Linked DNA regions of Homo sapiens. The protein of the gene in region 1 purifies or fractionates together with the protein of each later gene. This does not show direct contact. Each region holds a gene or a part of one and is shown in the gene's direction. Other genes may lie near its edges. The genes, in order: RTP3, MOV10 and CASC3.

The links.
Region 2: the proteins of RTP3 (region 1) and MOV10 purify together in Homo sapiens (affinity purification with mass spectrometry; one large-scale study listed by BioGRID and IntAct). This does not show direct contact.
Region 3: the proteins of RTP3 (region 1) and CASC3 purify together in Homo sapiens (affinity purification with mass spectrometry; one large-scale study listed by BioGRID and IntAct). This does not show direct contact.

Annotation. Positions count from the first base shown.
Region 1 is NC_000003.12:46,496,439-46,500,936, forward strand, and holds the start of RTP3 (receptor-transporting protein 3), read left to right. Parts: upstream 1-1,537; 5' UTR 1,538-1,624; coding exon 1,625-1,779; intron 1,780-3,917; coding exon 3,918-4,461; 3' UTR 4,462-4,498.
Region 2 is NC_000001.11:112,681,159-112,684,658, forward strand, and holds part of MOV10 (helicase MOV-10), read left to right. Parts: intron 1-3,500.
Region 3 is NC_000017.11:40,146,929-40,150,649, forward strand, and holds part of CASC3 (protein CASC3), read left to right. Parts: intron 1-3,721. UniProt on the Homo sapiens protein: Required for pre-mRNA splicing as component of the spliceosome. Core component of the splicing-dependent multiprotein exon junction complex (EJC) deposited at splice junctions on mRNAs.

The DNA of each region.
Region 1 (4,498 bases):
ATAAAACTCCCTTTAATGAGATATTATGGTTTGTAGGGCATAACTTTTACCATGCATAGCCTTAGGTCTTGTTTATAAATTGGTTATCTGATTGCAACAAGCAGTCTATTTTGTCAGTCTTATGATCTCTGTTTTAACCTTGATGCTGGTGAGTTGTCCCTAAAGTCAAAGGGAGGGAGTATGATAAGGTGTTTCCAACCTCCCCTCCTGTCATAGCTGGGAATTTAGTTTTTCAGGTTTCTCAGGGGTCCCCTTGGCCAAAAGCTAGTCCATTCAGTTGGTTTGGGGGCTTAGGAACTTATTTTTAGTTAGCAGTTTAAAATCAATAAAGTGTAACAACTATTTACATAGCATTTACATTGTATTAGGTATTATAAGTAATCTAGAGATCAATTAAAGTATACAGAAGGATGTGCATAGATTATATGCAAATACTATGTCATTTTGTATAAGGGACCTGAGCATCTGAGGATTTTGCTATCTGCAGGGGGCGCTGGAACCAATCCACCTGGAACTGAGGGACAGCTCTAATGCTGAGAAACAAAACTGGCTTGGAAAGAGGGGAGACCCAGGACTTGAGCCTGCCGAGGAGCTAAACCCAAGGGCAAGAGCTGCAGGCAGCTGGGCTGGAGAGGAGGAAGGAGGTGGCTTTGTTTCCAACTGCCCTGGAAGACCTCCTCATCCCCCTGCATCCCCAGCCTCCTTTCCTTTTTCCTTCCTGCTCTGCTCCCTTCCTTCCTCTCCTCCTCTTGGGAGGTGGCCAGGGACATAGGTCAGTGCCTGGCCCCGAGGAAGACACATGCAGTTTGTGGACGGGTCTTGGGATGCGGACACCCAGAGTCTTGTGCACCTTCCTGGAGTGTTGCCCACTCCAGTACCCACTCCCTAATCTCCCCTCTTCCTCCTCAATCCTCTCTTGCAGGAAGCAGAGGATGGAGAACCCCCTCAGGAAGGAGGGCAGTGACTCTGGGTTTGCCTAGGGCTAATGGCCTCTCACCGACCTGTGCCCTTGTACCTGTCGCCTGGGCAAACAGTGATTGCATCAGCTTTGGTTTCTCATGGGTGGGCAGCCTTGGCTGTCTGCCGGAACGTAAAGAGCATGGAGCAAGGACATGGGAATCCGAATCCCGCTGAGGTCCCAGGACCACTTCATCCTTCTTCCCTGTGCCTCTCCTCCCCAGCATGAGCACAGCAGCCTGATGGAGAAGGATTTTCCAATGTTAGAACTGGAAAGAACACCTGTAGCCTGTCTCCACCGTTTACAGTGGTGCTGGAAGTGAAAAGATGTGTTCCAGGTCACAGGCAGGTAGACAGCGGAGCCAGACTGAAATTCACTCCTCCTGATTTGGAGTTTAGAGCTCTTCTTTGGCAACATTTTGATGAATAAAATCACAAGTTCTGTGTCTTTTGAAATTCCTTGTGGAGCCTAGTGCCATCCTCTGAACTTGGAGCCAACTGACCTTTGTCCTTGGGGCAGAGACATGGTTCATGGGCCCAATCCAGGTCCTCAAAGGGAGGGCAGGTCTGAGTCCTTGCCCTCTGAAGTCAGAAACCTCATCTCCCACTACAGACCTGCCAGGGCCCAGGAGAGCTCGACCCACCCAGGCACACCATAGCCCCAGAGATGGCTGGGGACACAGAAGTGTGGAAGCAAATGTTTCAGGAGTTAATGCGGGAGGTGAAGCCATGGCACAGGTGGACCCTGAGACCAGACAAGGGCCTTCTTCCCAACGTCCTGAAGCCAGGCTGGATGCAATACCAGCAGTGGACCTTCGCCAGGTGAGGGGGAATGTGATGGTACACGTTCCAGAAAATTCTTGCACATTTCTTACTAGGTATACCTGTTACTTTTCTTGTTCTATTCTGTGCTTTCAAATTGAAGACTATGGGTAATAAGATGCCCATCATCCAAGAAGTTGTAACTTCATTAAAGATCGTTTTTTCACTATTACAATGAACCCCAAAGCAAGAGCAGGCCTGAGCACCCTTGTGAGCTAATGCCTGGATACAGAGAAATCAGTCTGTGGGGGTGGGGAGAGGGAGCAGCCAGGAAAGGGGAGGGGAGGAAGGGCAGCTGTTGCACCCACGGGCGGTGCATGTGCCCCATGCCTAGGGAGACTGCTGGACCCACCTTGGAGCCCCTAGGAGGAGAGACTCACGGCACTGAGCAGACACCCTCGGGGGAGGCCGGAGGAGCAGGGGGCCTGGGCAACAGGCAGCAATCCTGCCCCTCTCTACTCTGAGCTGATAGAATCTTTTTAAAATAGGAGTCTTAGAAATCATCCTAAGCCTCATCCTCTCTTTCCCAGGTGGAAATGGGGAGCCCCAAGGCTTGGGGCTGATTGCCCACAGTGCACAGAGGGTGGAGGCCGGGTCCCACCCGCTGTCCCCTCCCAGGGAGAGTCTACATAGAGGGGGCAGAGCTCTCCCACTGGCCTATGGCTATCCCAGGCCAGGAGCTGCCATAGGGAGCATTGCACCAAAGTCTCAGTCCATTTATCCATGGGAAGTTTGAACTCTGAACAAGCACAGGAACAGAGCACTGAGACCCAGGGGATGGCAGTGGACTTCTGCTCAGAACAGGGCCCAGGCCCCTCTGCACTGCTGACTCTGGGTGACTCCCAGCAAGGTCCTCTCACAGTGATCACAGCTTCTTGGCCTCTCCCTCTCATTTCAACCTTGCATTCACCCTGTGGGTTGCGGCTAGAGTCAAGATACAGGAGCACACCCTGGACTAACTCCCTCTTCCCAGCCCCCTCCAATTCACCACCTGCAGCCTAATTTCTCTGTATCCAGGCATCGGGGGCTCAGCCACAGTGACAAATAAACCTGGAAATATCACTGATTTAACCTTACACGTGGCTCCCAAGGTCACCGAAGCAGAGGAGGAGAGAGCTGGAATGTCTTACCAAGGCTTCTGTGACCATATCTGGAAGGAACATATATCACTGCTGGCCTCATCTCATTGCCCAACTGGTCCCATGGCCCCAGCCTCACGGCAAAGGGGCTGGGAAGTGGGAGGGAGTGCATGGATAATTTGGTGAGCATTAAATGTCTCCGCCACAGTGCAGCTCTCTGCCTCTCCCATAATTCCTTTCCCAGGTGCAGCCATGTGCTTCCTGCCTTCTTCTCTCTCTACCTCCTGACATGTATTTGTCCAGATACCTTAGCTCAAAAACTGCCCTCCTCCCTGCTGAGACAAGGTGTATTATCTTGTATCCTGTCTGAAGCCAGTGGCATTCAGAATATGAAGTTTTCCAGGCTACCTTGAGCAAGGGAACTGGGTTGGAGGGGAAACAAATGAAGAGAGAGCTGGACACTGTGATCTCCCTGCAATACCGCAGACCAGGGACCCTCGGCAGCCAAGAGAAAGGCAAAGGCTTTCCTCTAGGAGAACCCTGGACACTTCAGGCTCCCACCGCCAACCCATGAGTCTATAACTTAATCAACACCCACCTATAGGCATTTGTGGATTTCAGGGTCCTGAACTGAACTGGCTGCTGTTGCAGTTGTGGCCTCTGACCCATTTGAATCTACATTTGAAGAAGCTTTGCTTTGGAATAGGGAGACCACAGTCCCAGTCATGCCTTTTTACACCCACTGGGTCTCTGGACATGAGGAGTTTCCAGAGTGTGCCTCATCTCTAAAATGGACGTGTTGGACTTAGAAGATGCCCAAGGTCCCTCCCAGATCTAACAGCTTGCAATTCACTGTTTTCATAGCAGACACTGTGCAGCATGCAGTGTGTCAGTGGCACAATGGAGATGGGAAAGAGGTCTTAGCAATTTCTTCCACCACTGAGCCACAGCCCCAGTCAAGTCATGTCTCTGTGCAGTCGGTAGCTCCTTTCTCTCTCTGGCAGTTCCCCGTGATTTGGTCACATGGAGCCAGGCTGAGACTCTCTTCTGTCTCCACAGGTTCCAGTGCTCCTCCTGCTCTCGTAACTGGGCCTCTGCCCAAGTTCTGGTCCTTTTCCACATGAACTGGAGTGAGGAGAAGTCCAGGGGCCAGGTGAAGATGAGGGTGTTTACCCAGAGATGTAAGAAGTGCCCCCAACCTCTGTTTGAGGACCCTGAGTTCACACAAGAGAACATCTCAAGGATCCTGAAAAACCTGGTGTTCCGAATTCTGAAGAAATGCTATAGAGGAAGATTTCAGTTGATAGAGGAGGTTCCTATGATCAAGGACATCTCTCTTGAAGGGCCACACAATAGTGACAACTGTGAGGCATGTCTGCAGGGCTTCTGTGCTGGGCCCATACAGGTTACAAGCCTCCCCCCATCTCAGACCCCAAGAGTACACTCCATTTACAAGGTGGAGGAGGTAGTTAAGCCCTGGGCCTCAGGAGAGAATGTCTATTCCTACGCATGCCAAAACCACATCTGTAGGAACTTAAGCATTTTCTGCTGTTGTGTCATTCTCATTGTTATCGTGGTGATTGTTGTAAAAACTGCTATATGAGCCTTGGAAACATGAAGCTAAGTCAGAAAAAAAATCA
Region 2 (3,500 bases), on another chromosome or scaffold:
CAATCAGGGTGGTTTTTTTAGTCATTGTTTTATTTAAAAAGAATCATGTTTGGCCGGGCTCAGTGGCTCAAACCTGTAATCCCAGCACTTTGGGAGGCCAAGGCGGGTGGATCACCTGAGGTCAGGAGTTTGAGACCAGTCTGGCCAACATGGCGAAACCCCGTCTCTACTAAAAAATACAAAAAATTAGCTGGGCGTGGTGGCGGGCGCCTGTAATCCCAGCTACTCGGGAGGCTGAGGCAGGAGAATCACTTGAACCCGGGAGGCGGAAGTTGCAGTGAGCCAAGATGGCGCCATTGCACACCAGCCCGGGCGACAGACCAAGACTCTGTCAAAAGAATCATGTTATTCACATCATCCACGTCCTACTCTCTCAACTGTGTGATGGGAATCACTCGTAGGCATATGGCATAGACCTCTAATGCATTGTTGGGATTTTTTCCCCAATATCATACTATAATAAATTTTAAACATAAAGAAAAGTTGAAATGAATCTACAGTGAACATCCACATACCCTTACCTAGATTTCTTTTAACGTTTTACACATATCTGCCCATAGATCCATCCCGCTATTCATTTAGCAAGTCATCTTAATTTTCCTGATGCATTTCAAAATAAGTTACAGACATCAGTACACTTCACTCCAACAAATTATTATTAATTATTTAGCGTGATTATTATCAGCTAGAGTTCAAAATTTATGTTATGTTTGCCTAGAAATAAAAAAAAATTGTTTATGGGTTTTTTTTTTTTTTTAGACAGTTTTGCTCTTGTTACCCAGGCTGGAGTGCAATGGCGCAGTCTTGGCTCACTGCAACCTCCGCCTCTGGGATTCAAGCAATTCTCCTGCCTCAGCCTCCCAAGTAGCTGGGACTACAGGCATGCGCCACCATGCCCAGCTAATTTTTTGTATTTAGTAGAGACGGGGTTTCACCATGTTGGCCAGGCTGGTCTTGAACTCCTGACCTCAGGTGATCCACCCGCCTTGGCCTCCCAAAGTGCTGGGATTACAGGCGTGAGCCATCGCGCCCGGCCATGGGTTTTTTGTTGTTGTTGTTTGGGTTTTGGTTTTTTGTTTTTTTAAGTCAAGGTCTTGCTCCGTTGTCAAGACTGGAGTACAGTGGCATGAACATAGCTCACTGCAGCCTCAACCTCCCAGACTCAGGCTATCCTCCCACCTCAGCCTCCTGAGTAGCTGGGACCATAGGCGTGTGCCACTATGCCCAGCTAATTTTTCATTTTTTGTGGAGATGGGGTCTGTCTATATTGTGCAGGGTGGTCTTGAACTTTTGGGATTACAGGTATGAACCACTGTGCCGGGCCTTTAAGCAAAATTTGCAAACAGCAAAATGTTCAAATTGTAAGTGTACTGTTCTGTGAGGTTTAACAAATGCATATATCTGTGTGCAAACGCCTGTTGAGGTACAGAACATCACATCACTCCAGAAAGCTCCCTCGTGCCCTTTCCTAGTCAGTCCTCACTCTTACTCACCCAGAAGCAACCACTGCTCTGATTTTTTCATGACAGTACCTGTTCTAGAAATTCATTTAATGGAATCATATAGTATGTACTGTTGTGTAAGGCAACTTTCACTTAGCGTAATGTTTTTGAGATTCATCCACAATGTATCAGTAGTTTCTTTTTTATCACTTAGTAGTATTCCATTGTATGAATCCAAATCACAGTTTGTATATTTATTCCCCTGTTTATGGACAGTGTTTTTAGTTTGGGGCTCTTCTGAATGAAGCTCCTAGGAACATCTTTTTTTTTTTTTTTTGAGACGGAGTCTTGCTCTGTTGCCCAGGCTAGAGTGCAATGGCATGATCTTGGCTCACTGCAACCTGCACCTCCCAGGTTCAAGCAATTCTCCCGCCTCAGCCTCCTGAGTAGCAGGGATTACAGGTGCCTGCCACAACGCCTGGCTAATTTTTTTTTTTTTTGTAGAGACGGGGTTTCACTGTGTTTGCCACGCTGGTCTCGAACTCCTGACCTCAAGTGTTCCATCCGCCTTGGCCTCCCAAAGTGCTGGGATTACAGGCGTGAGCCACCGTGCCCAGCCAGGAACATCTTATACAAGTCATTTTGTGGACTTACATTTTAATTTCTTTTGGGATGTAACTAGGAGTGGAATTTTTGAGTCATAGGATAGGCATATGTTTAGTTTTACAAGGAACTATTAGACCTTTTCCCAAAGTGCTTAAACCATTTTACAGACCAACAAACAATGCATGAGAGTTTGGGTTGTTGTATTTTTTATTTTTTTGAGACAAAATCTCATTCTGTCACCCAGGATGGAGTGCAGTGGCACAATTGTGGCAGACTGCAGCCTCAAGGGCCCAGCTAATTTCTTAATTTTTTTGTAGAAACAGGGTCTTGCTATGTTTCCCAGGATGGTCTTGAACTTCTCAGTTGAAGTGATCCTCCTACCTCAGCCTTCCAAAGTGCTAGGATTACAGGCATGATCCGCTGTGCCTGGCCTGGTTGTTCCGTATCCTTACCAGTGTTTCGTATTGTGAGCCTTTTAAATGTTAGCCATTTGAGTGGGTGTGGTACATCTTTTCAATGGCTGCATAATATCCCACGGTATGAGTGCTTACAATGTGTTCACCTTTCACTCTGTTGATGGGCATTTGTTTAATTTTCAATTCTTGACCACTGTGAGTGACTCTGCAGTAAGTATCCTTGCACATATGTCTTTATACATTGGTACTTTTCTTCCCATGGGACACATTCCAGGAACAGTGTTACTGGGTTTTGTGGGGTTTTGTTTTATCTTTTAAATTTAAATTTTATTTTATTTTATTTTTTGAGTCAGGGTCTTGCTCTGTTGCCCAGACTGGAGTGCAGATCTGCAATCATAGCTCTCTGTAACCTCAAAGTCCTGGGCTCAAGCAATCCTCACACCTCAGCCTCCTGAGTAGCTGGGACTACAGGGGTGTGCCACCACACCTGACTAATTTTTTTTTTTAATTCTTTGTAGAGACAGGGACCTGCTATGTTTCTTAGGCTGATATCAAACTCCTGGGCTCAAGTGATCCTCCCACCTCAGCCTCCCAAAGTGCTAGGATTAGAGGCGTGAGCCACCATGCCCAGTCCCTGGGATTTTTTTTTTTTTTTTTTTTTTGTGACAGAGTTTGGTTCTTGTTGCCCAGGCTGGAGTGCAATGGCGCGAACTCAGCTCACTGCAACCTCCGCCTCCTGGGTTCAAGCGATTCTCCTGCCTCAGCCTCCTGAGTAGCTGGGATTAGAGGTGCCTGCCACCATGCCCAGCTAATTTTTTCTATTTTTAGTAGAAATGGGTTTCTCCATGCAGGTCAGGCTGGTCTCAAACTCCCGACCTCAGGTGATCCGCCCGCCTCAGCCTCCCAAAGTGCTGGGATTACAGGCGTGAGCCACCGTGCCCGGACAGTCCCTGGGTTTTAAAGGATACCTGTATTTTAAATATTTGTAGATGTTGCCAGATTGTTTTCCCAAAAGATGGCAATACTTGACTCTTCT
Region 3 (3,721 bases), on another chromosome or scaffold:
CATAAAGTCAAAATTATAAGTTGAACCATCATACATCAGGGACCGTCTGTAGTCACTAGAGAATGGAAACGTTGGAGAAACTGACAGGCAATATGGAGTGTTCATTGAGTTTTGGGGATTGTGAATTTATAGCAGCTTACCATTCTATATGTAAGGGAGTTTGGATGTTTTCCTAATGGCTAGGAAAGAAGTACCACTGAAGGCTTAAATGTGGGGGATGAATTGTGGGTGAGGCACAAAGGAAGACTAGAGGCAGAAGAGCTGTTTAGAGGTTGTTAGGATAGTCCAAGGAGCATGACGATGGTGCCCCTAAAGAAGGTTCATACTTGTTGGAATGGCAAGATGTGGGACAGATTAGAGAGAGATTCTAGTGTACTAACAACCCCTTCATTGATTGAATGTGGAACCTAAATTAAGGAGTCAAAGGAGGCCAGGTACCTTGGCTCATGCCTGTAATCACAGCATTTTGGGAGGCTGAGGCAGGTGGATTGCTTGAGCCCAGGAGCCTGAGACCCACCTGGGCAACATGGAAAAATCCTGTCTCTACAAAAGAAAAGTAGAAAAAAAAATTATCCGGTCTTGGTGGCGCAGGCCTGTGGTCCCAGCTACTGAGGAGGTTCAGGCAGGAGGATCATCTAAGCCCAGGGAGGTCAAAGCAGTAGAGCTGTGATCACTCCACAGCACTCCAGCCTGGACAACAAAGTGAGACCCTGACTCAGAAAAAGAAAAAGGAGTCAAAGGAATGTGCAGGTTGATGAATGGTGTTGAATGGTGTTAACTGTTAAGGAAGGGACCCCAGGAGAAGAGTTCTGGAAGGACAGTTGTGGGTTAGGTTTTGGATGTTTTGAGATCGAGAAGGTGTGGGACTTTTAGGTGGTGATACCTGGTAAATAGTTTTTGATTCCTAATTGCTCATACCTTTCTGAGTTCTCATTTCATTTTTGAGTTTTTCCAATTCTGATTGATGTTCTTTCATGCCTTATATAATTTTCTTAATGTCTTTTTAGCTTATTTTGAAATAGAAGTTGCAATTTTGATATGATATGCGGATGTCTTTCTGGCATGCTTTCATTGTCTGTAGGAATGCTATTATTTTTTCTTATTATAACTTTATGGGATTTAACTTCTGTATTTTCTGTTCATTTTTATGTAAAATTAGTTTTCCTGGTCTTTTCGAAGGAAGCATGATTTAGAATAGCTTTTTCTAACTTCACAGAGCTGCTTCTGTTGTTTTTCTGTGGTGGTGAGAAATATGGTGGCTTGCTTTCTGAGATTTGTTGCTTTTGTTCCCTTTCCCAGCTTGTTCTGGACCATCCCTGTCCTACTGAATTTGGTCCTGCTCTCAACAGTTTCTCTTCTAGGAACTCCCTTCTAGGGACAGTGTAGGGCCCTGTCCCCAGAAGGAAGCCCTGGCAGCCAGGTCAGCTTCATCCCTTCAGACCTTTTTTTTTTTTAAGACAGAGTCTCACTCTGTCGCCCAGACTGGAGTGCAGTGGCGCAATCTCAGCTAACTGCAATCTCCGTCTCCTGGGTTCAAGCGATTCTCCTGCCTTAGCCTCCTGAGTAGCTGGGACCTCGTGTGTCACCGTGCCCAGCTAATTTTTGTATTTTTAGTAGAGATGAGGTTTCACCATGTTTTCCAGGCTGGTCTCGAACTCCTGACTCAGATGATCCACCCACCTTGGCCTCCCAAAGTGATGGGATTACAGGCATGAGCCACCGTGTGTGGCCCCCTTGCTAGTTGTAAGTGCTGTTCTCAGTTTTGACTGTTGTGCTTTCCCTTGACTGCCTGTTGATTATTTCAGTGTTCTCCTGTTCTCAGGTCCATTTGCTTTCTCTCTGCTTTCTCCTGCGTGGACACCAGTACTATACAGGTCCTACAGCTGTTGGTGCTTTGTTATGCACTTACATTTTGGGTCTTGGGGGATACCTGGTAACTTAACTTTGTTGCAGTGTTGTCTGAAGGTTTTGGTTTCTTTTTTATTTTTTGAGACAGAGTCTTGCTGTCGCCCAGGCTGGAGTGCAGTGGCTTTGCCTTCCAGATTCAAGCTATTCTTGTGCCTCAGCCTCCTGCGTAGCTGGGATTACAGGTGCGTGCCACCATGCCTGGCTAATTTTTGCATTTTTAGTAGAGACGCGGTTTTACCATGTTGGCCAGGCTGGTCTCGAACTCCTGGTCTCAGGTGATCCACCCACCTCGGCTTCCCAAAGTGTTGGGATTATGGACGTGAGCCACTGTGTCTGGCCAGGGTTTTGGTTTGGGTCTCGGTTTTGCTGTCCAGAGCTCTCATTCCATGTGGAGATTTGAAGAGAGATAAAACTGTGCCACTGCCATTTTCTGAGAGTCTTCCAAGAATTCTTTTTTTTTTTTTTTTGGCAAATGGGTCTCCTTATTTTGCCCAAGCTGAGCTTGAACTTGAACTTACAATCCTCATCAGCCTCTTGAATAGCTGAGACAATAGGTTCATGCCACTGTGCCTGGCCAAAAAAACTTGTTAAAGAAATTTGACTGAGGGAAGGCTGAAGAGATGGTAGTTGGAGAGGTAGCTTTGAGATCAAGAGGTGATTTGGATGTTTTTTAAAAAGTTAGGAGAGTATCAAATAAGGTCAAAGATTGAAAAAAAGAAAAGAAAGGGGGAAAAAAGAGAGGGAATAGATAATGATATTGAGTACTGGTATTTTTGACTGAGTATATGAGAAAAAGTAGGAACCAGACAAGATTAACATCTTCCATTGTAATTACAGAGAAGTGGGAAGGAAAGGTATGTGCAAAGGAAGATTAGAAAGGAGGGAAAAGCTGGGTGCGGTGGCTCACGCCTGTAATCCCGGCACTTTGGGAGGCCGAGGCGGGCAGATCACGAGGTCAGGAGATCGAGACCATCCTGGCTAACATGGTGAAACCCCGTCTCTACTAAAAATACAAAAAATTAGCCGGGCATGGTGGCGGGCACTTGAGCCTGGGCGACAGAGCGAGACTCCGTCTCAAAAAAAAGGGAAAAAAAAGAGGGAATAGATAATAATATTAAGTACTGGTATTCTTGACTAAGTACATGAGAAGATGTAGGAACCAGATGAGAAGTATCTTCCATTGTAATTACAAAGAAGTGGGAAGGAAAGGAAGTTAGCGTTCCTTTCTGTGTTTTGTTTTTGTGAAATAGAAGGATAGAGCAGGACAGGCACGGTGGCTCACACCTGTAATCCAAGCACTTTGGGAGGCCAAGGCAGGAGGATTGCTTGAGCCCAGGAATTTGAGACCAATCTGGGCAACAAAGTGAGACCCTCTCTCTACAAAAAATCAACCTGGCGCAGTGATGTGTGCTTATGTCCCAGCTACTTGGGAGCTTGGAGTGGGAGGATCCCTTGAGCCCAGGAGGTCGAGGCCACAGCAAGCTATGATTGCACCACTGCACTCCACCCTGGGTAACAGTGTGAGACTCTCGAAAAAAACAAAAGAATGACATCTGCTTCAAAAAGTAAGAGTGTGTGCGTGTGTGTGTGTGTGTGTGTGTGTGTGTGTAACCCCCTTTGGCAATGGAGTAGTCTGTTGTAGGCCTGGAGAAAGCAGACATTTGAATTGATCCAGTTCCAGGCATATGGGAGTGGCAAGAGAAATGGGATGTTACTAGTAGTGATTGAAATGAATGAGCTATGGAGTCTAGAGAGAGAAGAAAGTGAATGTGAGAAAGGACTGATAGGCAGAAGTTAGAAGCATCAAGGGAAT